Regions from separate parts of the Homo sapiens genome. Here regions 2 and 3 are each linked to region 1. Evidence: fine-mapped expression QTL. A gene starts in region 1. Each other region holds a variant in brackets. All regions are shown on one strand. Distances are between the middles of the regions.

Region 1 (10,376 bases):
ATTCATTCAATTAAAAAGTGCCTATTATTTCTAGGTGTTATGGTTAAAGATCCTACCCTCACAGAGCATACAGCAAGCTGGAAAGACAGGCAATTAGATAGTTAATTATAATACCGTGGTGCATTATATAATAGAAGCAAAGGTGCTGGGATACACATGTCCTAAGGTAGGGTCCAATCTACTTCAGGGTATCTCTTGGAAATGACGTTTATTCAGGGATTGAGATCAGTAGCAGTGGGAGTAACTACTTATGCAAAGTCCCCAAGGAGACTTTAGAGTAGCTGGCATAATAAAGGAGCTGAAAGAAGCTCAATAATCTTGAAGATAGAAATATATGCAGTCATTTGCATCTCTTGATACTCTACTGTACTTGCTTTGAGGGCGAATACAATTCTCCAGTCACAGACTGCTCTGAATAGGCAATCTATTCTGACTTTAGCACTGTGGCAACAGTTTCAAAATATCTTTCATCTCAGTTTCTTAACATGAATTTGAGTACACTATTTTGTATTTCACACAACAGAAGAGAAGTGTAGGTAAAGAATAGCATTTTAGTCCCCAACTTTTCTAAATATATTTTAAACATGAGCTACTTTATTCTACTAAAATATGTTAAGATGTGGAAATTCAGCAAGTTCTAAATCTAGTGGGAAGTTTATTGGGTTGGAAGTGGAGGAACATGTTAGAGGAGCATCTATCTACTGAAGTCAGAACATCAGTGATAAGCTGTGGCCCAAGAGCTCATGCTTCAAAATAGCTGGGTAAGTGTTATGACAGGAGGGAAGAGAAATAGTTAAACTAGTATAGCATATATATGTGTCTCATGGTTACTCTCATTGCCTGTTTACTAAACAAACAAAAATCCCGTGAATTCATTGCTGCCTTTACAAACATCACAATGAGTAAGACAATTTTCACCATCTTCAGCAATTCCTGACAATACATTGTCTGCCATTGGGAGTCATTCTTTGTTTTGAATAAGTGGCTGACTTCCTCCCCATATTCAGCCATCTCCCATCTCCTCACTGGATTTCATTTTGAATAGGAAATCTTGCCTGTGAAAAGAAGACCCTTGCTTCTAGGCCAACCAAAATGTTTCTAGGGAAGAGAGACATATAGTTTAATTAGGGCTAATTCTATATTTATATTCTTAATAACGAGAAATAGTAGTCTTACTTGAGTTACACTTAATGCTGTACACCTAAAAATCATGGAAATAAAAGATTGACTTGTATCATTAATTAGGTCTTTATCCAAGTATTTTAGACAACTATGTTTGGATTTCACATTTAGAGGAGTGAGCAAGAGAGAATGAACTTATCTTTAGGCAGCCAATATAGCATATTATTTTAGAGCATTTAATTTGAGGTCAGAGATATGAATTGAGTAGATTTGTCATTAGTTCTTCAACTTTGGACAAATGAAATTAACTTCTTAATACTATATTTTGATTTCCTCATCTCTAAAATATTGATAATAGTTATAAAGTTTTAATTTTTTCTTTTCTTTTTTTCAAGGCTAATCAACAAGCTGAGGGAGTGAAAAAAGAACAAAGAAATCTGTGACTGCTTGTGATCAATTAGTAAACTTAATTTTTTAGATTAAAATGAAATAATACATGCAAAGCCCTTGGCACAGTGCCTTGCACATAATACATTTCGGGGTTAAGTTGTGCTAGCTATTCTGTTATTGATTGTCTTGCCCTTTGTTCTCTGGAAGGTTGGATCTTGCCATTTGGGGATGGCCAATGGGAAGGCTGAGCAAGACATCAGAGGGTGGGAGGAAAGGAGGTATATTTATTTTCCTTACTCCTTCTCTGCTGGGCTTCAATTTTGTCACTAGCTGCATTCCTTTTTATGACCACAACTCCAGTCTAATGGCCACCCTCCCATAACTAGAGTTCATAATCAAACTAACACTGCCACCTCCTCAGGCCTAGGAATGGTCATGGTTTTTCTTCTCACCTTGCTTCAGGTTCTTTTTTCCCTACTGTTGCTTGCGCTAGATGCTCCACCCTCTTTTCTTGTTCCTTTAAGGCCTCTCTAAACTGTCACTTTATGAAACTGTCTTCAGTTAAATCCTTTATATGTGACATCAGTTTATGCTGAGACTTTGACATACATAAAATAACAATCCTTTGGACATAAGGACATCTTTTTGATGAATCATTTTAGTAAACGTTGTAAGGAGCTAATATAAGACAGTCTAAATCAAATAGGAAGTTTATTGGGATGCTGGTGGCTTGTTGTTCTGATGTAAACCCAGTTTGGAAGGCTGTAGAGAGTTTATTTAGATGTCAGAGGGTGGTAGGATGGAAAGGTGGAATTCTTTTCTCGATGTATAAAACAAGGTCATATCTTCAGTGGCAAAATGAACATGAGGATTATGGAGAAAGTAAAGAAAAGTGATTGGCTATAATGGACAGTTTATGCTTATGGGTTGTGGTAGGCAGAATAATGGTCTCCCAAAGATATCCATGACCTAATGCCTGGAACCTGTGAATATGTTATCTTAGATGGTAAAAGGGACTTGGAAGATGTAATTAAATTAAAGATCTTGAGATGAGGAGATTATTCTGGTAGGCACATTGTAATTACAAGGATCCTTAGGAAGGTAGTAGGGTCAGAGTCTGAGAAGGAGATGTGATGATAAAGCAGAGTCATGGGGGAAGATCTGAAGATTCTACCCTGCTCGGTTGAAGATGGAGAAAGGGGCCACAGGCCAAGAATGCAGGTGGTGGCCAGAGGCTGGTGAAAACAGGGAAACTGATTTTCCCCTAGAACCTCCAGAAGAAATGCAGCCCTGGTGACATCTTGATTCTAGCCCAGTGATACTTCTGACCTACAGAACTGTACAATAGTAAATTTATGTTGTTTTAAGCTGGTGATCTATGGCAAGTTGTTACAACAGCAATAAGAAACTGACATAGGAGTAGTAGGAGATAGAGAGAGGGTGTTGGATTAGGGCAGTCAGTTGAGAATTTTGGATTTTATCTTAAAGGCAACAAAGAACCACCAAAGATTTTTGACTAAAAACAGATATAGTAAAAATGATGTATTAGGAGGGTAGACTGGAAGTTGGGTTCAAATTGAAGACAGAAAGATAAGCTCTACAGTAGTGTGCATGGATAAGTATGGTGATGAGTCCCCAGGTTACAAACGGACTCTGAATTGATGAGAAGTTTCCAAATCTGAAAGAGATTGCTAAAGAAGAGCCTACAGAATATAATGACTGATGGGAAAGCAGTCCAATTTCAGATCCCTCATGTGTTGCGAAATGGGCATAAATATAGTGCACACAAGGTTTCTAAATATTTTAAGTCTCTTCCTGGATTCACCAATGTATATTTCACCAACATATATATGAAATTGTAACTTGTTAAACTTCTCTGTTACTTCAAGTTTCACTCTTGTCTTTTTAGAGGATACGCAAACCTCATTTCATCATTTCTACTCTAGAGACTGCTTATTTGGTAGAATGAAAAAGTACAACTTGGATAGTAAACTACTGTATTCAGATTTTGCACAAAAACAACAAAATACAATCTAAAAAAATTTGAGTTGGAGAAGAATCATAGGTCAAATATGTGTAAAAAGTAGTGGCAGTAGCTGGTAAGTTAAACCACTCACCGGCTATAATGCTGTTCAGCAGTTACCACTGTTTGGATTATTGGACATTTCCTGAGTAGTGGGAAATGTTTGGATGAAAAGCCAGTAGCTAATTATTAACTCTCTTTACATTACCTCCCTTCTGAAAAAAGCTCTGCTTGCTGATAATCAACTTCTAAATCATCTTCATAAAACTTAACAATGCTTGGCCATCTAAGGCAGGTCTAAACTAGCTGGCTCTACCCTGTTTTTAGTGGTAAAAATGCTAAATTAACTAGTACTAATAACCATGCCAGCAGTAAAAACACTGAACAATTGAATATCAATGATATGTTAAAGCCAGCTGTTAATTAACCCATTAATAAGGTGATTTTCTTTCACACAGAGATTCTATCGATACACTTTCCCCCCACCTTCTTCCATTTTTCACCATTTCAACTTTCCCCCACCCCAATCAGTAACTGGTAAAAAAGATCTGACCATGAGTTCATTATTGGGAAAATCTTACAAAATGCTATATTTCAAGCTTTTTCTAAATTGGATACAACTTTGCATTTCCACTATGTTTTTAAGTCCCCTCCTTAAAAATACACATTTATGTACAAATAACAATACTATATTTTGCATCTTAAAAGTAGACTGCCCTGTGATATTTACAGAGAAAATGTTCACCATTCCTTTCTACGTTTCAAAATATCCCTCCTCTTGGGTGCTGACATAGAAACATCATTTTGGAACAAGTGGCAGTTTCGTCTTGCATCCCTGCCTTTTCTTGTTCTGCATGGGAAAAAAGCCTAAATAGTAGACAGCAAGAAAATTCAATAATGTCCACTCTGGAACAACCCGAGGGTAGGAATTTTGCATATGTATCAGGCGCCCTATAAGCATCACCCTCCCATCCCATGCCATAAAAAAGGGTGGAGGGGAGGAAATATTCAGCAAAGTCCTAATATACAATGTGTATTGTAAAAACAACTTTAATTTTAAAAGTGAATTCTACCTTCTAAGGTTTTCAGTGCTGCCTCACTCCTACTCCTAGGGTGAAGGACTTTGGAGAGACACGAAAACTAATTCATATCAAAACCAGAACGCGAAACTCCTGCCTGCCCCGTAGCCTGGCCTGAGTACCTGGAATGCCCGAAAGTGGATGGGCGCTCTCTCTTCCTATCTGGCCCATGGCTCTGAGGACCTCCCTCCCCGCTCCAAGCCCCAAGCCCGCGAGCAGGAGATGCTCAGAGAAAAGCGAGTCGCTCACCAGTGAGGAGCCAGCAGCAGGCGACAGCGACCCCTGGGCGGGCGCGGGGCCGAGGGGCCATGGCCGGAGCAGCCTCAGCGCCAGGGGGCCGCGCTGGTTCGCAGGGCAGGACCGGGCGCGGGAGCTGCGCTCTCTGGCTGGGCCACTTATCCCGCTGCCGCGGTTCCCAGTCCTCTGCCCCAGTGGCAGCGGCGCCCAGGAGCGGGAGAGGAGTGATTTCCTGTGTTTTCGTCGAATTCCTCTAAATGCGCTCCACGCTTTTCACATCCCAGACGGATTGCCACATCGCCCGCCCCTTCGCGCTCTTGGTCTCTGAAATCTCACTGGCAGCTTCCCAGGCTCTGTCCGAGACATGGACAAATAAAGCCAGCTTCGCGGGTCCGTGTTTAGGCTAAAGTCCACGGGCTGTAGAAGCAAACCTTAAAGGGACATCTGCCTTTCATTGAGAGGGTGATCTCGTTCTCCGGGCCAAATCCCCTAAGGTGGTAGGAAGGCGGGTAAGGGCTGGACCTTCGGGAGGGTGTTGCCAGCCCAGTGGCTCCGCCTTCACACCCCTTACTTCTCCCGGCCCGGGCAGGGAGGGCGCTTTGACAGTGCCTGGGCGCCCTTAACGGGAGGCAGCTTTCCCGGGTCCATTGCGCAGAGGGATTAGGCCGTCTGTGAAAATGCGAGGATCTGGAATCCCCCCTTCCATCCCCTGCGGACACTTGAAATTCACCGTGAAGTCGTTTTGCACGAAAGGGGGCGTCCCCACCACCCCGACAGGCTCCACTGAGGGCTTTGCTTTCGCTTATGGGGGGGTGGGGGGGTTGCTTCGTTTATGGTAATTCGTGGTTAAAGGGTGGTTGCAGATAAGCTTTTCTTTGAGATAACTAGGATAAGGGGAGAAAAGGAGAAGCAAGACGGAGGAAAAACAGTAAGAGGGAGAGCGAGAAGGGAAGAGAGGAAGAAAAGCAGCCTCCTTGGAAATGGAATGTGTGTGGGCTATTTTGTTTAAGTGAATTAGGATGTTTGTACGCTGGTAATTGAATCTAATAAAGAACTCGGGGCACTACTTTATTTTTTTCTTGCTTGAAACTTTCACGAGTGAAAATGCATTAAGAGTCCAGAAGTGCTTAGGAACTTGCAATGCTTCCCTTTCCTGGTGAGTTGAACAACCTCTCTGAGTCAAAAGCCATATTCACCCTAGCTTCAACCAATGCTGGCTATTTTCAAAATAGCTGTGTCTTAGCGGTTTTGAGAATTTCAAAGACAGAAAGAATAAGTGGATTTGTGTTTAGAGGAATCTGAGGGAAACAGTTCAATTCAATTCTTCAACTCAACAACTAATTGAGCATCTCTAGCAGAACTAGGGCTAGGCAGGACAAGAGTGCCACCCAAAGGAGGGTTCGTTGAGCAGAACGCAACACAGGTAGCACAGAACAGGTAACACGAGGGACAGGAAGGAAGAAGCCCACAGGGTTCACTGGATACATTGCCAGATAGAGGATCACAGCAACTAAAAGCTGGAGAAGACAAAAGTTGAAGAAGTTTAAGGAGCGTCAAAAATGGGGTGGGCAGACCCAAGGAGGTTGAAGGCCATCAGATCTCAGTATGTTGACCCATTAATCAAGAAATTCCTTTTCTATTATGTATCTGAACTGATTCACTATTTAGTAAATACATTAAAAATCTCGTTCTCCCGTTTTTAGTTTTTATAATGTCATTTCTCAGTTCTGTCTTCAAATTTACACAAATGAGTCTCTAGAAAAATTGTATTATGTTGGGTCACAGTTCAATCCCATTGGACTTTACTTAAGTTCCTTTGTTTGTGTTCAATGCTCTCATACCCTGCCAAGGAATTCATTTCCTGTGTATATCTCGTTTCCCTGTTGGTAGTATCAGTTATGTCTTATGCCTCTCAGTATGACTCTCTGTGCTTTGAACAGTAACCAATAGATATTGATTAATTCGTAGACATTTAAAAATCATAGTAAGTACTTTCCCAATGATATTTCTCCAAATTGCTTAGTTTTCAAAAACATATAATAGTGTGTCTATATATACACAATCATGTGTATGTATGTATGTGTACATATATATGTACAGCATATACATACATATGCAAATACATATATGGCATTTTAGCAAATTGCAATATATTTCATTAGAAAAAACAAAAAGAAATTGTAAAATATTGAAATAAAGTAGGGTTAACATATAATATGTTCAAGTTTACAATTACTGGGAAATTTACCTTTCTTCTGGGGGCTAATATATAATTTCAATTTTAATATTTTTATTTCCTCTAGGACTTACAAATTATTGGTGATAACCATCACTAACAGTGATATTGTTACAATTAATTTTCACAAGTTACAAATTTTATGTTTACATGTTTACATATTTATGAATCTTTTATATGTCTAGTCAATACAAATGTAGAGACTGAGAGATAACTATGGTTAGAGAATTAATTTTAGAATCAGTGCTTATTTTCTGAACTTCAATAAACCCAAATACAAATAAATGTCAAGCCGGTTATTTTCTTAACCAATTTTATTCTGACTGACAGAAAGACATGTCATTGAGTAAAGATTTAGAGAAGACAGAAACTTGCCCAGAGTCACAAACTAGTTATTGATATGAGACACTTGATGACAAATGTTTCAGCTCTAGACTTTATACTACATACTTTTCTATTTTAAATGAGACTTGATTTGATCAGATCTCTTTAAGGGTTTGGAAGCATGAGTAGGAGCATGAACCTTATTGTGAACTGCACACGCTTCTTATGAGAATCTAATGCCTGATGATCTGTCACTGTCTCCCATCATCCCCAGATGAAAACGTCTAGTTGCAGGAAAACAGGCTGAGGGCTCCCACTGATTCTACATTATGGTGAGTTTTATAATTACTTCATTATATATTATAACATAATTATAATGGGAATAAAGTGCACAATGAATGTAATGTGTTTGAATCATCTTGAAACCGTTTCCCCTACCCCTGGTCTGTGGAAAAAATGCCTTCTATGAAACCGGTCTCTCTGCCAAAACGGTTGGGGATGGCTGCACTGAAAGATTAGAGACTGAACTGATTAAGAATTTGGAAAGTGGATGTCTATGAAATGAGGCAAGAGTAATTGAGATTATTAACCAATAATCTCAAAAAGAAAAACATATACTTAAAACCAAAGTATTCTTCTTGGAGTTAATCTAATATACTGAGTAAAGTAACTAGAGTAAGTAAGGTTCTGGAGTTACGCTGCTTGGACTCAAGTCCTGGAACCACAATATAGTAGCTGTGTGATTTGGGAAACGTCATCAAGTTTATCTAAGCCTCAGTTTTCTCAAATGTAAAGTGGGAATGAAAATACTGTACTACTTCTGGTCTGAGAATTGCTGTGGGGATTAAATGAACCGAGCCTCTGAGCATTTAGCACAATGCCTGGATTAAAGTAAGTGCTCGGTTAGTATGAATCATTCTTCTCTGTAAATAGAAGAATTGGTATTAAACAGACCATGTAAACAGGGCAGGCTCTGCGTGTGGTAGACCCTGTAGGAAGTGGTGAAATTTGATGGCCATCAGAAGAGGAACTTTAATGTCCGCCTAAAAATATCTCCATCAACTCCTATTATTATTTCTGGAATCCTCGCTTTAAAAATATTTACCTTGGATTAGGGAATTATCTTGAAGATAGTTCTATAAAATGGGTATGCATGAAGACATCAGAACCCATTATAACGTTCACATGAATTTGCTTTTCAAATTGGCTGGCCGTCAGAGGTTTTTTTTTTTTTTTTTTTTTTTTAATTTTTTTACAAGAGAAGAACATTCCGCTAAGAGGTTGGGGGAATAGAAGAGGTTCTAGAACTCCGTGTCTAATGTATGCCAGGGTTCTTTAGCAGTAAGATTATAGGTTCTCAAAGCTACAGGATAAATAAGGTACTCCCACCTGGGTAGTGGGGGTGGTGCTGATTTTACTCAAAAATAAATAATTTAAAAATTGTTGTTTGCTAAAATAACAGATTTTTATAAGAAATATTTTTAAATCATGTTTTCTTTTTAAAAGTCAAATATGAGATTTTAAATACATTTTAAGGTAGCATCAAAGTGTGGTTTTACCCCAACCCCATCCCCTCCACTCTCAGGTGTTAGGGGTAGGTGGAAGTGTACAGAACTGCTTCCGTTTTTACAAAGATTTTATGAAGATTTGGATTTTTAAGTTTTAGTATGTAAGCACTTAGGGGAATATACCCCAAAACAGTGGGGCTAACTCACAAAGCTAACTCATATGGAAAACTTAGTCTAGTTCAATAATTTTTAATTTTCTGGCATATATTGGGCTCCAGGGCTATGTTCTGCAGAGGCAAAAATGGATACAACAGTTGTTATTCCACTGCAAACCTGCTGTTCATTAATTTCTTTCACTTGTAACTAGGAAGAGAAAATAAGTAGTTTTGTGCTCAATTGTAACATTGGCATATTTCATTTTAAGCCTATTAAATTAAACAGTCTAGTGAAATTATCCTAATAGTTGTTGTTGATATACCTTGAGAACCTATGATTGCTTCCTCTCTGACCAAAATAAAGTCACAGTGATATGGAACTTAAACTTCACCATGAGCCAACCATTTGTTTTTTGTTATTACGTAATATTCCTGTGTGTTTTTTCACTTAAAATATAAAATAGGTGTTTCTCCCTCCCTATTTCCTGAACAAGCCTGTGCCAGAAACCTTGTCCAAAGACATTTGGGCAACTGGTACTTAAGAAAAAACAAAAAAACAAAATACTTGACTTCAGAATCCTGGTGAGGAACAGTTCTCAACACTATAGGAAACTTCCTTGGACTTACTGGCAGACTTCAACATGAGTGACACACCAGGGCTGCAGCAGGGGAGGGTGGACCAGGGTGGTGCCCTGGCAGGAATGTTCAATTCGTGGCATTCTATGACTCAGAATAACAACCACTGATGAGCAGTAACATTTTAGCTGCATTGCTGGGTCCCTTAATTTGAAATATGACTTAATTATATTTAAGCTGTTATGCAATTCTAGGATCATTTGAACAGGTTGATTTAATTATTTTCTTTTAACCAATTTGTAAAAAGTTAAATAAAGTAAGTGGGCTCTAAAATCCCAGAATTACAACAAAAAATGATTAATTAGTATTTCAAACCAAGGAGACTGGCATTTCTTGTGGTAGGACTGGGTCACTAAACACATGTGTGGGGAAATACCATTTGTCTTTAATACAAAATAAATGCATCAAGGGAAGGGAGTCTATTATTTGGCTCTGAGATAATAACACTTACATAGCTTATTTTACAATAATGTGACCATTTTTTATCTTCTCTCCTAGATCATAATCTATACAATGATAGTAATTACTAATGTTTGTTCTCTGCAGCATCTGTGCTCATGTAATGCACTGAAACACTTACAAAGTTACTTCTCTGCAGGAGGAAGTCTCTTAGATCCTGGGGAATCAGAGATGTTGAAGTGCTAGGCCCTAACCTCAGGAATATTC
Region 2 (10,376 bases), 110 kb before region 1:
ACAGGTATGATCTGTCTTGATGCCATGACATTGCCTCACATCTTTCCTTCTCCTTTGGAAGCTGTATGGCAGGAATAGAATTCAGCAAACTGTGGGTGGAGGAGGCAGGGGAACATAATCCCAGCTGTATTTTCACCACCAAATTCACTTGCAATGCCTGTATTGGCATAAGGCAGTTTGGGTAATAGAAAGATGGGGTAGGACTATGTCCTGAGACAGATGTTTGACAGCTTGAGTTCTTACAGTTTCCTGATCCTTATTGATAAGCATGGGATTTTTCTAACAGAGCCTCTGCCTCTGCTTCCTTCATAAGATTTTTCATAGCCTTACAACTTGCAATCCACACAGTTTATGAAAAAATACACTCAGTCTCTTCTCAATTTGTGACCCCCACAAAGAAACATTTTGAAAACTTCATTTCAGATTTAGAATATTATTTTGGGTGAAAAAAAACACAAGGTATTTGTCCTGCCTTTTCTGAATGCTTTTCTATTTTGAAAGAAATCTTACATGTATTAGACTTTATGTTGGCAAAATGTCATATACCCTCACTTGTGAGTAAGCTAATGAAATAATTTCTGAAACAGAAAAGAAAATCTCAGCACACTGTAGAAAACATACCCAAAAATTTCCTTTTTGGACAGAGAGAAGTCATATATTATAAATACTGTGCTCAGAAATAAGATTCTTAATATTTTCTTACTTGCAGTGGCATCTTTAAGTTGAATTCTCCACATCTGCTTTAAGCAACGTTTAACCAAAGGTTTTTGGGAATGACAAATTTAGGATTCTTAAGAGTTTATTTACTTTAAAGGAATTTAATCACATATAATTAAGAATACCAAAAACTACAGTGTTATCAATTAAAATGTGTGGGCTTCCTAAGAGTGGCAACAATATCATACACATCTTTGTGGACTTCACACAGTGTCTTTAAATTTGTAAATACTCAATACTTATTAGTAATAGTACTAATGTCAGCTACTATTATTATTTTGTATTATGTATGAGTTTTCTACTGCTGCTGTAACAAATTACCACAAGTTGGTGGCTTAAAGCATCATGAACTTTTTATCTTACCATTCTGTTTATTAGAAGTCTGGCATAGAGCTTCCTGGACTAAACATCAGGATATTGGCAGGTCAGTGTTCCTTTCGGGAGCCTATCAAGGAGAATCGGTTTTCTTGCCCTTTGTAGCTCTAGAGCCATCTACAGTTTTTGGCTTGTGGCCCCCCTCCATCTTTAAAGCCAACAACACTGCATCTCTCTGACCATTTTTCCATAGTTCTGTCTCCCTCTGGCCACATCCAGGAGAGGTTCTCTGATTTTTAGAATGCTTGATTGTATCAGGTCCAGCCAGATATCTGAGGATAATCTTCCAACTCGGGATCCTTAATTTCATCATATCTGAAAAGTCCCTTTTGCCATGCAAAGTATGGGTCCAGGGATTAGGACATGGACATCTTTGGGGATCATTATTCTGCCTACCACAATACTAATAAGAGGAATGTTTATTATATAACATTACACAATAAAAAAATACATAATAACATTTACATAATAAAATAATAGACAACACCCATTGAGTGTTAACTGTGTGTCAGGCACAGTACTAAATATAGTCATTACTTAATCTAACAACCCAAATGATATATATGGTGTAATTATTTCCATTTTAGAAATAGGAAAATTGAGGCTTTGAGGGGGAGAGTAATTTGCCTAAAGCCATAGCCAGGGGCAGAATCAGAAAACAAGCTCAAGTCTCTATGACCTCATCGCTATCGCTAATTGTACACCTTGTACCATAACTGCTTCAAGTCTTTAGTATCATAGAATCAGCAGCTTTATAATTTTTATTTTTATGGGTGTGTAATATTCATTAAGTGGATTTACTATTTACTTAACTACCTGCATATTTTCGGGCATTTAGGATAATGGCATTTCCCCCAATAACATAAATAATAATACAATGGAAATCATTGTTCACTTGGCATTCTTAAATATTGGATTTTTTTCCCTAGGTTAGGTCCACAGAAGTGAAATTTCTGTATAAATGTGGTACGAACATTTTTTATAGCTCTGTAAACACATTGTCAAATGCCTTTCATAAGGAGTTTTACTAATTTATATGTCATCCATTATATAGGAAGATAAATGTTCTATATTTATTCTACATATAACAGAAGCCTCAGGTTAAGCTGGTTCTTGATTCCAAGGTATTTCACATAAACAGTCTCATAGAACCTTAGGATGTAATGAACTTTTAGAAGATATCTAATCTAATCCCCAGCCCTCTTTTTTAGGTATTCTGTGTCATAGCACATATCATACTGATAGTGATTGCTTGTTTCATTATTGTCTCTCACCCAAAAAAGTAAGGTTTATCAGTGTAGGAACTGACCTGCCCCATCTATCTTTTTATTCCCTATAAACTCAGTGTTTGGCACATTGCTGGTACTCAATATTTGTGCAGTGCTTTCTTAATCAACCCAGAATCAGTTATTTTGGTATCGTGATATAAACACTGACATAAGAATCAAGAAGCCTCAATTGTGGTTTCACACCTGCCATAGGCAGCTGGGACATAATTGTTCTATCTCTCAGTTTCTTGATTGGAAATTAAGACTACATGCTCCATAGGATCTCTTTTAATGCTAAAATTTGAAATGAATTTTAAGCCTAACCCCTATATTTTATATCACAATCCTCCAAATACCTAAAATACATGCAATGCACACTTTGTTTTCTAACCTTCAATTTCTTTAAGTTTTCGAGAGAGTGAGACTTGTAGCAGGGAATTGCTTCGGGAGCTGACTTTTCTGTGTAATATTTTACTGGCACATCCTAGTTTGTCATTTTCTCCTTGTAGTATGTGATACTTAGAACAACCAGATACTCTAGCTGTTGTCTGACCAGAGTGGAATGTAACAGGATTTCTATGAGAAACAGACTGGACTTTCATTCATGCAGTTCTACATGTCTTAAGAGATTTTAGCAGTCACAGTGCAGCTGCTGTTGACTGTTACATTTTTAGTCATCTAAAACTCTAGTCCTTTTATTCTTCTTAAGTCCTGCTGCTCCTACAGCTTTAATAGGTGTCCTTCAATAAGGAGATGTATAAACACCGCAGTAAAGACCTGCCACCTTCCTGATAAAATAGAAAGCAACTGGGACAGAGAGAAAAAGACTTGTCTCCGGGACAGAAAGATCCCAGAGAGGAAGGCTAACACGTGAAGCTGTGAATGCTTCCAGGCCAAGGTATGTGTTTTCTTTATCACTTTATTCCCAGCACTAAGATCAATGCCTGGGGCAAAAGAGGATCCCCCAAATATTTGTTGAGTGAGTAAGAGCTGGGAAGCCATATCCTGATGGTCCTTTTTATTTTAGGTCCTCCCAACTGTTGGTGAATATCTTTTTTCAGTGAGGGGAGAGTTCCCTGGCATCCCCCAGGTGTTGCTCAGCTTGGTATAGATCCCAAATAAAGTGGTACCAGACATACAACTCCTCATTTCTGGCAAGACACTGGGAAACAAGATCATGTTATATCACTGGGTTTAAGTTCAATATTTGTCTGATTGTGAATGGAGCTATTAAAGAAGAAGTTACATGACAAAATACATTTTTCTTTTCCCAAATTAGGACCCATAGAGAGAAATTAATGATAGAAGACATTTAAGACAATATGAGTTTGGTTTTCAGGATATAGGAGAAGTCGAGGTTTCCTTTTCTACTCTCATTTCTTGTCCACCAGGTTCAAAGTTCTCCTTGAAGTTAAAGTTGATACCAGACACAGAGAAACTGAACATATCAGAAAGGGCACATATCAACCTAAACCATTCCCTGCATTAGACAGCCCTACTAACAAAAAAGGACCCCCATGTATGTCATTTTGACTAACTAAAGCTGCTCAGAGGCCTAAAACTTTGCATGGGTTCTGGAAAATACCCAACTTGTTGAAATAATCCTGCTATATGGTTGCAAGCCTATAGAAACATAAGCAAATAATGCTAAAGGTAAAAAATGGAAAAGTAAAACAACTCTTTTATAATTATATCCAAACCTTACCTAAATAAGAAGCAAGCGGTTCATTCTTTTTGGTAGACTCAACATTAAAGGTTGTGTTTCGAGGGATTATGATTTGACTAGCCTTCTGCATGACAACTGTTCCATTCCAATCATAGGCTCCTACTGCTCCAAGCATGACCCAGTCCTTACATGCAAATAAATAAGATAATAATATTTAATAAAAATAATAAGGGGAAATACTTAAACACCATTAACAATGTGTATAGGTATACTGTTCAAAGTGCTTTACATTTGTTAGCTTATATAATCCTCATGATAACTCTATGAGTTAGATGCTATTGCTACCATACCTGTTTTACAGAAAAGGAAATCAAGGCACAAATAACTTACCCAAGTTATACAGTAAAATTGCACATGGAAATGTCAATATTCTTTTGCAAGGACCATTATGCCTTTTCTTTCATTAACTGCAAATGATATATTTTCTAATCTTGTCTTTCTACTTTATTCTGGGTGCCCAGCATCCTAGGTCTTGAACATGGAATTCTAATAAGACCCTTGAATTCCTTGACCTGTGGAAAAATATTCCACATCTGTAGCAAATATGTTAAATTATTTCATTTAGACAGATACATAATTACAAGGCAAAGCTCACACTGTCTGATTCACAACTATTAGTACAATGTAGTGAACTGTGTGAGAGAACATATTTTCTTAATAAGAAGCTTGTGAAATGATATTTTCCTATTTGAATTAGAAAACATCATCATAGCCTGCATAATTGTTCAAGCTATGAACTGCACGTTGCACTTACATACTGATGGCTAGATGTTGGTTTTGGGAAGGGAAGTCTTGCAAACATATATTTCATTTTTCACCAACTGGTCAACATACCTGTGAATAATGAGCACTGAAGCCAGTCTGAGACATTTCCATTTCAAATGAAGCTGCTGACTGGTCAGCTGTGGCTATAACATAGGAAAATATCACTGTAAATAAGTAACAATGCCTTTTCA[T/C]GCACTACTGACTTGCAGAATACAGATACCTGGTAGAGCTTGTGGTCTTACCAACCAGAACTTCAAACATCTTAGGGCATTTTCAGCCATACATTTCTCAACCCAAAATTTCTAGGTAGGCCTGGGTAGAAGACAGAGAAAAATAGTCAAAGGGCTCATGTCTCAAATTCTTGTTCATTAGCAGCCCTGTCCTCGCCAGAGGGGTTGAGAAATCTCCATTCTTATACTGTAGCATGTTGTGGATCCTATGGTGCTTTGGGTCCACAAGGCTCAAGTTGGATGTACTACAGTAGGAAATTCCTGTCCAAATTCATGCCTTGGGAACCCTGCTGAGCCCTTAGGCTAAACTCCCTTAATATGTTATGGGACTGAAAAAAATTTCATTCACATATTTAAAGAGGTTTCTCAACTCCATCAGTCCCACCCATATTCAGGCCATAGATTCTGTCAGAATTTCATTGTGTGATAAAGGGTTTAGGTATTTTAGTATGCATTTATTTGCTCTAATTACTGGTGGTAAGTATCACTCACAGATCCAGAGGGGTCTTTGTGATAGGGCTGCCCACATGCCATTCAATCATACATTTTTAAAAGATCCTGTACCCATTTTGAAGCTCTTTACTGAAATGCAGAGATAATTCAGAGCATTCCATGGCAGTCTGCTACTCTCAAATTATTCTCAAAATATTCACAAACCCAAAGCCACAATTTCCTGAGGGAATTGATGGAATGTTGATTTATTTGCTTGCACTAGGGGTTACTGATTTATTTGGCCTTGCAGATAAGTTAAAAATAGCACTTAAGAAAGTCAGTCTGCCCTTTCGTTGAGGCAAGAGAATAATCAAATTTGTGAATGTAACTATTTGTTAGTTATTTACATGGATAAAATTGTGAACAAATACATCAGTAATTACCTTTGTAGGACTAGATTAGACGCGGCAGTGAAGAATTCAAATATATCATTTTAATCTCTTGTGTGAATTGCCCTGTAATTTAAATGACTGAGATGCATTTTAACTTTAATTTAAACATGTATTTTCAGTCCACAATGCTTTCAGGTGTTTTCTCACTTATCTGCAAGATCAATAAGAATGCAGCAACGGAAACCTGCATTATTTTCAGCACCTGCCCTGCCGCTATTCTGCCTTCAGCTGAGAACAGACAGAAGGACGCTATGTGATGTTCTTCCTGCTGCAGTGGCATCATGGTAATAGACCACTATATTCTCCTGGGCTTCTTGCTTCAAACTTCTCCCTGGACTGTTCATGGGTGTTTGGGCCAGCCACTCTAACCACTGTGCAGCCTCTGGTTAGAAATGTTGGCATTTTCTCCCAGTGCTCAACGGGAAATGGAGACAGTAGACTATTTTCTGATGTACTAAGCAAGTCCTTGGCATACTTGCCTCAATAGATGGCACTGTCCTTGGCAAACAGAAATTTCATAATCACAGCTACTTGTCATCTTAAGATACATGTTGACAGGAAATGGAGATTTCCCGAGCAACAAAGAAATAAAGCCTTTTTAAATATCTCATGAAAAAAATAAGAAATAGTCTAGTCAAAACACTGCTTTTGGTGTAGTGTAGCAACAAAGATGATATAGAAGACATTTGTAATCTGTAAAGTTCCTTATAAAATGATGTCATATTTAAATATAGAGACTTCTTGGAGTGTTTGGGCTCTTCAACCTGTCACCTTTAATCCATGGTGTAGTTAGGTTAGAAATAATCTGAAATGTCATTTCAGGCAATTGATCTCCCCCTCCCCTAGCTGAAGTGGGCTTCATTTTTGCCAGTTTTAGGTTACTTGCTTACTTAAAAGGAGATTTAGAAATGACACTGTATTCTGTTGAACTATCAAATGTAACTATGTAACTTTTCTTTTAAATTATTTTTACAGATTGTTTCTATCATATCTTAGCCCATGTTATTAAAAATTAAAAGTACACAATTAGTTGGAAGACCTTATGTATTTTCCTTAAGGCCAGCCAAGCTCATAATCTGGTTTATTGGTAAATGACACCGGGAGAGCTGTTGAGAGACCAAAGCCACTTAAAAATGACTTGTACACAGAGCACAAGACAGCTGAGTTCTTCAGAAGCAGCTGGGACTCCAGACTCATAAACAATTAGAGTGTTCTGTTTCTAAAGGCACAGGGGAAAGAGGCCAGGGGAAAAGGGAGGCACAGAAATTCAGTCTGGCTGGCCTGTAGATTCCTATCACCTCTAAATCAAATGTTCTAAGTACGGATTGTGACCCAGTCATGAAATCAACAGACTGAGTATAGCCAGCATTTTTTTTTCATTGAAAGAGATTAGGGTAGAATGGAATTGATGAGAAACCATCACAGTGCATCACATGTAATAAGAATTATCTTGTGAAACTTTGCCTTATTTTTATATGTATATATTTATGTGCACTGGGTCAAAAAGCAAAATGTAGTTATTATCGTGAGTCACACTCAAAAAAAGTTTGAAAGCCATAACTCTAAATAATTATCTTTCCTTTCTGTACATTTTCATATTCTAATTTTTCTGCATTTTCCCAGCCCCTTGACGCTCAATCAAAATGGTCTACTTTTTTTCAGTTGTGTCTCATTCCCATTTTGTCTTTCTGTTTCCTATTATCAATCAAATCAGGGAAACTGAGAAAGTGCTTTTAAATTTCTATTGTTAAGATGTAGAAACAACAGTCTTTCAGTGTGTCCTCACAAGGACAGGGTCAACTGGATTTGGATGTAGCCTAAGGGGAAAAGAATTCTCTGGTGGTTTCTCTCCCTAGTTGGAGAAAAGGCGCATGTTCCCTGAGACTAGAGATCATCAAAGAATGTGAAGAAAGAAGCTTTGCCAGTTTGCCTGGCATAACAATTCTGAAGACTTTTTTTTTTTGTTTTTTAGGAAAGATCGAGTTCCAAAGTAATTAGCTACTTGACATCCTCTACCTAAGGCAGAATAGGGAATGCCATAACTCGTTATCCTCAACAGCCAGTCACCATTGAAAACTCAAGGAAAAATCTGCAAAGAAGTAACATGATTTAGACAAATACAGTGAACCAATGTTTCATTGCCATGGATTTTAAGGCAAATTTCCATGAAGACCTTTAAAATGGGCAAGGAGCAAAATACAGAGAAAATAAGTGAACAAAGAAGTTATTGCATAAGAGCACTCTTGTAGTAGCTCAATATGAAATGAAGAAACAAACAAACAAAAAAAACCCAAACCAGAGGTAGTACCCTCATTTTCCAAATCTATGTAACAGAAAAGGAACAAAGCACATGGAAACATTTTTGTCCTGGCACATCTACATTGACCATTGTCTTCATCGGCTGTCCCATCAGCACTGCCCTACCATGCCCTTACAAAGAGAGTCTCTAGCAGACACAGTGTTGTGAGAAACAGCCATCTTAATGGCAGATTTATATAAAAGAGCATTGTTCCATGCTAGATATTGTACACAGTAAAAAAAAAAAAAAAGTATTACTGATGTATTAGGAATAAATACAAAAATCCCATTATACTGATTTTGAATTGCAGAGAGAACATGCAGCAATAAGATAAATAGACATACCTTCCAGGGCAAATATTCTTTCTCCCAGAGTTTTAACAATGGTGACTAGAGCCAATTCATCAGAGACATTGAAGAAATGCTTTTCAGTGGGTTCACTTGCAATTGATTTTATTTCCTCCACAAATTTTTCAGTGCTTAAATTTCCTCGGTTATAGCTGCCAAGAATCTAAGACACAACAGAAACAGCAAGAATATATTTTAAATTCTATGTGTTAAATAAAGGATCTCAAGCATTTTGTCAGTAAACAACAGTGTAGAGTACCTTAGCATAATGGAATTTTTATGTACTTTCATATTTATGGAAGAGTGATTTTCAAAATTTGTAGACTCCCTAATATTAACTGTTATATAAACACCACAATTGGTGTAGAAAAATATAAAGGGCAATTTTGTATGTCTGTGAAAATTTCTCCTCTTGTACTCTGTGTCCCTGTTACTAACAGCTGTATTTTTAAAATCTGACAGTTCAAAAGTAATGTTATATTCATAGTTTCTGAATGTCTTTGATATTATTCCAGCTAGTGATGTCATTATCTGCTGGCAAAGGCAATCAGCAAGTGAGTTGCCTGCTTTTGAATGAGCAATTCTTCCTGAAACTATTACCAAGGCACAGTCCAGCACATATATATTTTAAACACATACTGGACTAAGTGGTAATCTAAATTGGCAATCTGGAAAATAAACAATTGAGATATTCTTGTTTGAAACCAAATGCTGGAGACAGGGGCATTCTTTTTTATGAAGAGGAGAGAGAAGCAGGAGTTATATATGATTGTTAACTATAATTATTTAGATGTCCAAGCAGGTTTTCTCAAACATTTAGTTTTTTTTTAAGGTAAGGTTTATTGCAATAAATTATATACAGTAAAATTCACCCTGTTTAGATGTACAATTCTATGAGTGTGACAAACCAATATAGTTGTGTTACTGCCACATCAAGGTGTAGAATATTTACATCACCCCAAAAAGTTCCCTCCTGCCCCTATAGTCAATCCCTTCCTCCCCTCGTTCAACCCTGGCAACCACCGATAAATAATCTGTCCTTATAGCTTTGATTTTTCCAGAATGTCAGATTTAAGGAATCATATAGTATGTAGCCATTTGTGTCTGGCTTCTGTGACTTTGTACAATGCTTTTCAGAGTCATCCGTGTTGCTGCATGTAGCAGTAGTTGGGTCCTTTCTATTGCAGAGTAGCATTCCATTGTATGGATGCACCACAATTTACTTAATGAGAACATTTGAGTTGTTTGCAGCTTCAACATATTATGAATAATGCTGCTGTAAATATTCACATGTAGGTCTCTGTAATAGACATATATTTTCTTTTCTCTTGAGTAAATAACTAGAAATGAAAGTGCTGGGTCATACAATAAGTGAATGATTAACTTTTTAAGAAACTGCCAAACTGCTTTCCACAGTAATCGTCCCATTTTGCCATTTTACTATTCCCATCAGAAATGTCTAAGAGATCCAGCTGCTTTGCATGCGTGTCAATACTTGTTATTGTCAGTTTTTTTTGTTCACTTGTTAGTTTTAGCAATTGTGTTAGCGTATAGTGGTGTCTTATTTAATTTGCATTTCTCTAATGACTAATGATGTTGAGACTCTTTCATACAATTATTTGCTATAGTATTTCTTCCTCGGTGTAGTTAGTGTCTGTTCAAATCTTTTTCCCATTAAAAGAAAACGAGATGTTTATTTTCCCTTAAATGTGTTGTAAGAGTTCTGTATATAGTCTGGATGCAAGTCCTTTATGTGTTTTGCAGA
Region 3 (10,376 bases), 23 kb after region 1:
TCCTGCCTCAGCCTCCGGAGTAGCTGGGACTACAGGTGCCCGCCACCACGCCCAGCTAATTTTTTGTATTTTTAATAGAGTCGGGGTTTCACCGTGTTAGCCAGGATGGTCTCCATCTCCTGACCTCGTGATCCACCTGCCTTGGCCTCCCAAAGTGCTGGGATTACAGGCGTGAGCCACCGCGCCAGGCCCGGGATCTTAAAAAAAGAAAAGTTGACCAACGTTTTTCCCATATGTACTCATTAGAATCTTAACCATACCGTCTTCTCTATAGAACCTCAAAAGGTGATCATGGATTGATCATGAATCATGGATTAATGTGCCTTCAGTTTGGCCCAGTAGTTAGGAAAACCCAGGAATTACAAAGATCAGTAGAGAAAATAGTAAAGAAACATGAAAGATGAGACTCAAACATCATGATTTAAGTAAGAGACAGAAAAAAAAAGTAAAGGCTAAGTCAGACCCACATGAAAGATAAATTTCCACATTATAACACAGCTGTGGAGGGATCATGACATGAGCCAGAGAAAATTCAAAGTCAGGGATTAGGATTCCTAGATCACAAATAGTGATGTGCTGTGCTGGCTTTAAAATATTTCTGGCAGGGCGCAGTGGCTCATGCCTATAATTTCAGCACTTTGAGAGGCCGAGGTGGGCGGATCACCTGAGGTCAGGAGTTCAAGACCAGCCTGGCCAACATGGTGAAGCCCCCCTCTAGAAATATTAGCCGGGCGTGGTGGTGCATGACTGTAATCCCAGCTGCTTGGGAGGCTGAGGCAGGAGAATTGCTTGAAACTGGGAGGCGGAGGTTGCAGTGAGCCGAGGTCATACCATTGCACTCCAGCCTGGGAGACAGAGTGAGACTCTGTCTCAAAAAATAAGTAAATAAATAAAATAGTAATAATAATAATAAATAAAATAATGTTTCTGCCAACAGTTCAGTCATAAATCAAATAGGAATGTGGGCAAAATTGTATTAATATTTGCTTATTTTAGGTTGTCTAGAATTTTATAAATGGGTTTTGTTTAGATCATAGGAAATTATTGGCATATGAGGCAATACTTTTGTCTGTTGCCTCTATTTTGGGTGGGGTAGGTGGGTGACATTTGTATTGTGGCAAACAAACACTGCAGCATACAGGATACAGGTGCACAAAAGCTCAGGGTAAATAAGAGGAGCTAGAGGTTGTAAAGAAATATTCTACAGCAGGTCAACTCTGTCCATCTGACTTCCAGTGCAGACAGTCTGACATTTTTAGCAATATTTTAAAGACCAAAATAATGAAGTAAGTGTTTACCAGAAAGAAAGCTGAGAAGTTGGCTCAAACTTTGAAAAATTAATTTTGCTTTTTTCAGATAGAGCACTGTGATGAAAGAAGCTTTCAACAGTTTATTCAGATTCCAAGAGAATGTTGGTGTGCCTAGTGTCCAAATTCACCAGACAAGTTTTGCTGTGATTTTCCAAGCTAGGTTCATTTCATTATATGACAAAGGAAATGATCACCATTGTAAATAATTTTTCTGCCTGTGACCATATCTTACCAGTTTATGCAGGAATTTCAAGCAAAGTATGAAAAATTTGCTAATTTTTGTGCTATCAGGAAGATAGGAGGTGAAAGCATGTTGAAAAGAATTTAAACTACAAATTGATACCAAGGAATTTTTGGAGTTCAGAAAATCTGCAAGAACCAACTTGTCGGACCCCCCAGGACTCATAGTATGATTCTTGTTTCTTACTGATGTAAGAAGAGAATGCCACAGATTAAACTTAAAGTTAAGGGACAAATAAGCTAGACAAGAATAGCTCTGCTTTCTTTAAGGAAGTGAAATATTCACATTCAAACTGAACTTGTGGATTGACTCAATGCACATTTATTTCCTTTTTCTGATATTCCCTGAATTCAGTAGAGTTATAGATTGCCTAGATATACAGATATGTTGGGGTAAACAAAGGCCCAGTTATAGAGGAAGTTCTCAAGTTACAAGAAATCTGAAACACACTTTAAGTTCTGGCAGAGGCTCTTGGAAAATAAAGCTCAAGTTTTTTTTTTTTTTAATAATTACAGAAATGTGGTATATCTATAAGCCACAATATCCAAAGAAACTGATGAAACTGTGTTATGGTTTGAAGGTGTTCCCCAAATTTCATGTGTTGGTAACTTAATTCCCCAAATCTTATGTTGATGGTATTTGGAGATGGGAGATAGGAGATAATTAGGAGTAGATAAGGTCATAGGGTGGGGCCCTCTGATGAGACTGGTAACTATGTAAGAAGAGGAAGAAAGACTTGAGTTGGCATGCTGTTGCCCTCTCCTCATGCGATGCCCTTCACCATGATATGAGGCAGCAAGAAGGCCTTCACAAGATGCCAGTACCATGCTCTTAGACTTCTCAGCTGCCAGAAATGTGACGAATACATTCCTTTTCTTTATAAATTGCCCAGTTTGTGGTATTCAGTTATAGCAAAAGAAAATGAACTATGACAAACTGTAAGTGAACTTTTCTTAACAAGATGACATACTAATGCCATTTGGGAGATGAGTATATCTGTTTTGAAACTAATGATATACTCAGCTTATGGCCAAACACCTAGAAATTACCAACATAAATCAGAAAGTCATCTTTGGTGATGTTAACCTAGATTCAGAATTGGAGTGAGTCCTGAAAAATATTCTTTATCAATTTTAGGAATAAAAGATTCAACCCACACTAGTGGATTTCTGGTTACATGATGTGACAGTTAATATTGAGTGTCAACTTGACTGGATTGAAGGATGAAAAGTATTGTTTCTAGGTGTGTCTGTGAGCGTCTTGCCAAAGGAGATTAACATTTGAGTCAGTGGTCTGGGAGAGGCAGATCCACCCTCAATCGGGGAGGACACCATCTAATCAGCTGCCAGCATGGCTAGAATAAAAGCAGACAGAAGAACATGACAGGGTCTGATTTGCTGAGTGTTCTGGTCTTCATCTTTTCTCCTGTGCTGGTTGCTTCCTGCCCTAGAACATCAGACCCCAAGTTCTTCAGCTTTTGGACTCTTGGACTTACACCAGCGGTTTGCCAGGGGCTCTCAGGCCTTTGGCCAGAGACTAAAGGCTGCACTGTCAGCTTCCTTACTTTTGAGGTTTTGAGACTGGGACTGATCCACCACTGGCTTCCTCGCTCCTCAACTTGCAGACGACATATCGTGGGAGTTTACCTCTTGATCGTGAGTCAATTCTCCTTAATAAACTCCCTTTCCTATATACATATATCCTGTTTGTTCTGTCCCTCTAGAGAACCCTGACTAATAGACATGGTCATTGTTGAAAATTACCTGAAACAAGAGGCCGACTTGGTTAGGAGTCCCTTAGCATAGGCAGTTCCTTGAGATGTGGGAAAAAAAAAAGTAAACTTTTTAAAAATATAATTATATAATCTAATTTAGGCTAATATTTATATTCTGAAAGGGAATAATCTCTTGGTCACAGAGGAAGCTTTAAAAAAACATGAATTTCTCAGTAGTTCTTGTTTTGTTTTCAGAGACAAGGTTTCACTCTGTTGCCCAGGTTAGAGTAAGTGGTACAATCGTAGCTCACTGCATCCGTGATCTCCTGGGCTCAAGTGATCCTCCTGCCTCAGCCTCCCAAAGTGCTGGAATTGCAGGCATGAGCCACCATGCTCAGCCAGCTTTTTTATGTACCATGTGGTCTCATCTTACTTTCTGTTTTTGTCCTGTCTGGCTGTCTCCTCTATTCTCATTATTATCTGGACAATCTCATTAAATTAAAATTGAAATTTTAAACATATAAAAATTAAAATCTTATAACATCAAAAATTCAAAACAGAGCAAGTCTGGTTGCCATAATAAAAAGCTAGGTCACTCCCTAGCTTAGTGGGTTCAAGTTGTAGTGCCCTTAGGCCAAGCGCCTGGCAATGTCACCATGAATGGCTACTTCTTTGCAAGGAACAACTTACAACTGTTTCATTTATTGTGTAGTTGGTGGGTGTTAATGTGTGTTGTGTGATGGGTTGGTGGTGAGCAAGGAAGCTGCAGAGACATTAGGCATGAGATGTGTCTACTATGAGTTAGGAGTATTAGTAATAGTCTTTAGAGGAGAAAGCAAACAGGAAGCCCACAGCTTTCAATTACTATATATGAAGTGAGTTAATAATCATGACTATAAAATAGGAATCACAAACTCAAGTAAGGCTATGGGCTAATATATGAAAAAAAACAACTAATTTTAGTTGTTTCTACACAGAAACATATTGTATGCATATTAAAACATAATAATATAATTAATACAATATAATTAATTTATAAAATAAATGTGATTCTTCTCACTGTATTCTTTAAATTCATTATCACCTTAGTTTATTTTTTCCCCAATTTTGATGATGACATGAAGACACAAAACTATTCTACTTTAGTAAGATAAAAATGATGATCAAATTAGTATTGATTGGAAACTAACATTTTCTGGTGAAAAGGACAGAGAGAACTGGGGTGAACAGAAAACTCTAGGCCTGTATAAAGGGAGTAGTTGCTACTTGATCCAATTGATTGCTGCCATTTAAGAAATGGGCTTGTATTGCAAGATCTTCCAGTGCTCTAAAAAACAAAGACATTTGAAATGTTTTAAAATTAGAAGTCTTCTTTTATGTGCTTTTTTTTCTTCCCCTGAAATCCTCCAGGAAAAATTTTTCAAGGGAAACCTATTTGGGGGGTTGAAAACTATCCATGGTTTTCTAGCTTTTTAGCCATGTCTTGGAGAAGATATGCTAAAGTTCTCCCTTTCTTTTTATATTTTTCGTAGATTTATAACTCTCTATCTCTTTTTTTTTTAATAAGACTTTATTACCTACACATTGTGATGGTTCATTTTATCTTTCAACTTAACTGGGCCACAGGGTGCCCAGATATTTGATCAAACATTATTCCTTGTCTTTAAGGTACTTGTGGATGAGATTAACATAAGTTGGTAGACTGAGTAAAGCAGATTGCCCTCTCTAATGTGGGTGGGTCCCATCCAATCAGTTGAAGGCCTGATTATAACGAAAAGCCTAAATAAGAGGGAACTTCTCTTACCTGACTGCCTTCATGCTAGAACATCAGTTTTTTTCCTGCCTATGGACTTGAACAGAAACAATAATTCTTCTTGGGTTTCAAGACCACTGGTTTTCAGACTGGAGCTATATTACCAACTCTCCTAGATCTCCAGCTTGTTAACTGCAGATCTTGGAACTTCTCATCCTTCGCAATTGCATGAGCCAATTTTTCATAATCTCTCTGTCTCCATACACACACACACACATATATATATATATATATATATATACACACACACACACACATATATTTATAATATCTACCTATCTCTATATATGTATATATGAGTTATTATATATATAAATATATATATAAAGTTCTCTCTCTCTATATATATAAAGTTACTCATTCTGTTTCTCTGACAATCCTAATACACATAGTGATTAGAAAAGTGGGCTTGTTGGGAGATTGAAAAGGAGTTGGCTTCCAGGGAAACTCAATTTAATAGACTGATTTTTGAGCAGATATTCCTCTTATAATAAAGTAAATAGTGAGATCTTAAAAAAAGAAAAACAAACCAAATCCTTGAGATTTGAAATCGGGAAGAAAGAGGTAAGCAGAAAAGATTTGTCAAGTTATATATTTTTGTCACTATGTGACTTTGAGCCAGCCACCTCCCTTCGGTGTAAGTTGCAGCATCTGTGAAATTAAGGCCTAGACTAGATCAGATGTTTTCAAACTTGTCTCAACTTAGAGAACCTACAGTTAGAATTCTGTTTTCCAGATATTATAGTTTTAGTGGAATGCCATGTAATCATTATTTTTAATTTTTTTTAGACAAAGTAGGGGAAATTGCCCTAGTAGAAAATGTAATTC[A/G]ATATAGGCAAAAATAGAATTACAACCATTTGATCATGTCTATGATAAATCCAGCTATTGCAATAAACATTTCTAGGATTTTCTATTTCTATCTGCTTGCTTCTTGTTTATTAATTTTTGACATCTTAAAATGCTTGTTAGTTGTATTAGTCCATTTTCATGCTGCTGATTAAGACATACTTGAGACTGGGTAATTTATAAAGAAAAAGAGGTTTAATGGACTCAGTTCCATGTGGCTGGGGAGGCCTCATAATCATGGAGGAAGGTGAAAAGTATGTCTTACATGGTGGCAGGCATGAGAGAATGAAAAGCCAAGTGAAAGGGGAAACCCCTTATAAAACCATCAGATCTTATGAGACTTATTCACTACCATGAGAACAGTATGGGGGAAACTGCCTTCATGATTCAATTATCTCCCACCTCACCCCTCTCACAACAAGTGGGAATTATGGGAGCTACAATTCAAGATGAGATTTGGGTGGGGGCACAGCCAAACCATATCATTAGTTAAGTGATTGCAGTGCCAATACCGTAAGAGAAATTTATGAGAAAAAAAATTGAGAAAACTTTTTCTATTAGCTTTATGTTTTCGGAAAATTGGATAAAATATTGTGTTACTTTATTTTATGGTGGGAAAACTTGGTCTAGCTATTGTGGGAACATAGTTTGAGGCCCACTGGAGTAGTGTTTCTTATAGCCTCTCCCAGCTGTAACATTCGATGTGTCTACAATTTTTTTTTCATCTTGGAATAAATGTATGTTTTACTTTAACTAAGTGACATAATTTCCATGTATAATGTTTGTATTATTTTCTTTTATATATATACATATTTTTTATTATACTTTAAGTTCTAGGGTACATGTGCACAACGTGCAGGTTTGTTACATATGCAAAAATGTGCCATGTTGGTGTGCTGCATCCGTTAACTTGTCATTTACATTAGGCATATCTCCTAATGCTATCTCTCCCCCCTCTCCCCACCCCACAACAGGCCCCAGTGTGTGATGTTCCCCTTCCTGTGTCCAAGTGTTCTCATTTTTTAACTGTGGCCAAGCAAGATTCATGACCTCTTAGTTGGAGAGAAATTCTCTTACAAACAAAATATAGCTGTGGGCTAATTTCTGTTGTTGAAATTGAGGAAAAAAACATTGGAGGACAAGTGCAATAGTTGAAATGCATGCAAACTTTGTCCTAACAACAAACCTTTAGTGGTTTAAAACTTCTTTTTCATCAACTTTCCACTCAGAAAGCTTTATTCTTCATTTTATTTATTTGTTTTAGTGTCTACTACCTATTAAGAAATTCTCTATATGTTGTGGATAAAGCAATGAACCAAACAAAACAAAACAAAATCCCATCTTAATGGAGCTTATATTTTGGTGGAGAGAAATAGACAATCAATAAAATATAAAAAATAGTATTTTAGATAGTTAATAGTTTAATGGAGGAAAATGAAGCTGAACTAGAGAAAAGGGTGTATGTGAGGGGTGTGAGTGGCAAATTTAAGACACGGTAATCAGGAAAGGTTTCATTGCAAAGATGATGTTTGAGCAAAGGTGGGAGGAAGGTCTATCTTAGTTCTAGCTGTTACAACAAATTACCATGGACTGGGTGACTCTACAACAAACATTTATTTCTTATAGTTCTGGAGGCTGAAAATTTCAACATCAAGGTACCAATAGATCTCATTTCTGCTGAGAGCCCTCTTTCTGGCTTGCAGATGACCATCTTTTGGTTGAAACCTTACATAACGGAGAGCATAGAGAAAGAGATCCTGTGTTACTGCCTTTTCTTTTTTTTAAATAAGGGTACTAATTGTGTTATGAAGACCCTGCCCTCATGACCTAATCTAACCTTGTTACCTCCCAAAGGCCCAATCTCCAGATACCATCACAATGGAAATTAAGATTTCAACATATGAATTTGAGGGAGACACAAACATTCAGTCTATAAGAAGGTCTATGCTAGAATGTAGGGTAAGAAACTTATAGCAGAAGGTCCCTAAGGCAAGAGCATCCTTGGGAAGTTCAGAAGACCACTCTGTTTGGAATGGAGTGATTTAGGCAGACAGTGGTAGAAACATGAGGTCAGATTATATAGGGACTTAAAGGCCATTTAGATGATTTGGCTTTTATTCAGAGATGGAAGCTAGTAGAGGATTTGGGGTAGAAGGGTAGCATTAGATGATACATTTTTAAAGAAATTTTATCATTATTATTATTATATTTGTACAGACATGGCCTTGCTATGTTGCCTAGGATGGTCTCAAACTCCTGCACTCAAGTGATCCTCCTGCTTCAGCCTCTCAAAATGTTGGGATTACAGGTGTGAGACACGAGGCTCTGCCAGACACATTTTTTTAAAGCATCACTCTGTGCTCTTTCCAGATATCGTACAGTTTTAGTGGAATTTTATGTAATCACTATTTTTGATTTTTCAGACAGCGTAGGTAAAATTGCATAAGTAGAAAATATAATTAGATATAGGTAAAATATAATTACAACCATTTGATCATGTCTGTGATTGTATTAGTCCATTTTCATACTGCTATGAAGAAATACCCAAGACTGGGTAATTTAAAAAGAAAAAGAGGTTTCATGAACTCACAGTTCCACATGGCTGGGAGGCCTCACAATCATGGTGGAAGGCAAAGAAGGAGCAAAGTCAGATCTTACATGATGGCATGCAAGAGAGCATGTACAGGGGAACTCCCCTTTATAAAACCATCAGATCTTGTGAGACTTATTCACTATCACTAGATCAGCAAGGGAAAAACCCGCCCCCATGATTCAATTACCTCCCACTGGGTCCCTCTCTTGATACATGGGGATTGTGGGAGCTACAATTCAAGATGAGATTTGGGTGAGGACACATCCAAATCATATCAATGATAAATCCAGCTGTTGCAATAAACTTTGCTGAGGTTTTCTATTTCCATCTGCTTGCTTGGTGGAAATATATACTATATGTCCAATACTGTGCTGTGGCAAGGACTGACACAAAAAGAGAAGTGAAAAGACAATTTCAATAATCCTGTTATGGCATGATAGTGGTCAGAACATGGTGAATGTGATGAGAAGTTGCTAGGTTCTGAATGTATTTTAAAGATAAAGTCAATAATATTTGCTTGAAGAGATCAGATGTGGGGTGTGAGAGAAAGAGAGTTGTTGAGTGTGACTCCAAAGTCACCAAAGGCAAACTTTCTTATTTGCAAATATTTCTGTGTAAATCTCAACATCTTGTGAAAGTATGTGATTATATTACACTCCTTGGAGTTCACTGTCAGTAGCCCGTTGTTCCCTCTTCGTTTCAGAGGATAATAAGATCAGAGCCAGGACTGGGACCCACATCAAGATTACCTACAGCCTGTTGGGTTACAAGGGGACTATCTACTCCTATGAGTTCACCATCCTCCTATCCTATATGGTCCATAAATTTCTCTCTGATTTTTGCTACCCTTGCATGTGATTGTCCATCTGGTGCCCTGAGCTGATTCATACCAGTCCTTATACCAACTTATATGCTCTGTCTCCCTGGATCCAGGGCCATCATCACACTTATCACCCGAGTCTTCACTTTAGTTGTTACAATAGGATTTTATCCAGAGTAAGTTTACAAATACCTGGGGCATGAATGATGGTTGAAATTTGCTCTGTGAGGAATAAGCAGGTAAAGCCCCAAGTGCTAAACAAATGTTAATTATTTATTATTATGGTTGTAATTATAGAGATGTATTCAAGGAGTAACAATGATTTAATCAAGGGTTTATTCCTGCTCTGTAGAGCTATCCTGCCCATTACAGTAGCCATTAGCCACATGAAGCTATTTAATTTAAAGATAATTAAAACTAAATAAGATCAAAAATTTCAACTCCTTAGTCCCAGGCATATTTCCATTATTTAATAGCCACACATGGCTAGTGGCTACTGTATTAGACACTGCAGAATGAGGAACATTGACATCATTGCAGAAAGTTCTATTGGAGAGTGCGGCTCACCTGTGTGAGAGGAAGTCAGAATTGGGGGGGTCACCATGCCATTCATATGAACAAGTTTTCACCATAGGTGAGTTGTCCTTCCTTATTTATGTGGAAATCTTTGGGAATTTCTTATGCCAGTGACCATAAGCTACATCTCCAAGGGCTTTATCACTATTATTATTTTATCATTATTACTATTATGTTTGTACAAACATGGCCTTTACCTTTATTCCTTAAAATATCTGTTAAAGGCAATCTTATGTGCATATGTGGGCGTGGGAAATCAAGAGCCTCACCACACTGCCATGAGGTATTCTTGGCTTTGGCTTGGTACAGCTCATAGAATTATTCAAATGACCCTTCCCTGAACTTAAAAAAATTAATGTACATTTTAAAGAAAACAAATCCCACATGTTTTAGTGTATTTATACTTGTTCTTCCAGCTTTTGGTTTGAAGAGGACTGTGGTATCTGAAAAATCTTTGGGAATT

Which allele goes with the higher level. Alleles are on the strand shown, and positions count from the first base shown. SD is a standard deviation of normalised expression in the study named.
For the expression in tibial nerve of the gene that starts at base 5,362 in region 1, allele T in region 2 goes with a lower level than allele C (small effect, 0.38 SD a copy in GTEx).
As copies of A replace G in region 3, the expression in visceral fat of the gene that starts at base 5,362 in region 1 goes down (small effect, 0.17 SD a copy in GTEx).

What was found.
Region 2: its variant is fine-mapped to the expression of ITGA1 in tibial nerve (GTEx, PIP 0.98).
Region 3: its variant is fine-mapped to the expression of ITGA1 in visceral fat (GTEx, PIP 0.95). The same link has a PIP of 0.9 or more in breast.

The regions. Positions count from the first base shown.
Region 1 is chr5:52,782,902-52,793,277 of GRCh38, reverse strand. It overlaps ITGA1 (integrin subunit alpha 1), which reads right to left and starts at 5,362. Exons shown (of 29, transcript NM_181501.2): 1 at 4,864-5,362. The coding sequence starts at 4,924. It overlaps PELO (pelota mRNA surveillance and ribosome rescue factor), which reads right to left and starts at 5,362. Exons shown (of 3, transcript NM_015946.5): 1 at 4,864-5,362. PELO-AS1 (PELO antisense RNA 1) reads left to right here. Exons shown (of 5, transcript NR_186455.1): 2 at 7,686-7,743. RefSeq lists an enhancer at 5,395-5,674.
Region 2 is chr5:52,892,073-52,902,448 of GRCh38, reverse strand. It overlaps ITGA1 (integrin subunit alpha 1), which reads right to left. Exons shown (of 29, transcript NM_181501.2): 9 at 8,609-8,774; 10 at 4,921-4,994; 11 at 4,066-4,210. Among named protein-coding and RNA genes, the nearest start is that of ITGA2, 92 kb to the left of the region's middle. The variant T/C (reference allele first, on the strand shown) is at 5,043.
Region 3 is chr5:52,759,436-52,769,811 of GRCh38, reverse strand. All of the region lies in intron 2 of PELO-AS1 (PELO antisense RNA 1), which reads left to right. Among named protein-coding and RNA genes, the nearest start is that of ITGA1, 23 kb to the left of the region's middle. The variant A/G (reference allele first, on the strand shown) is at 5,907.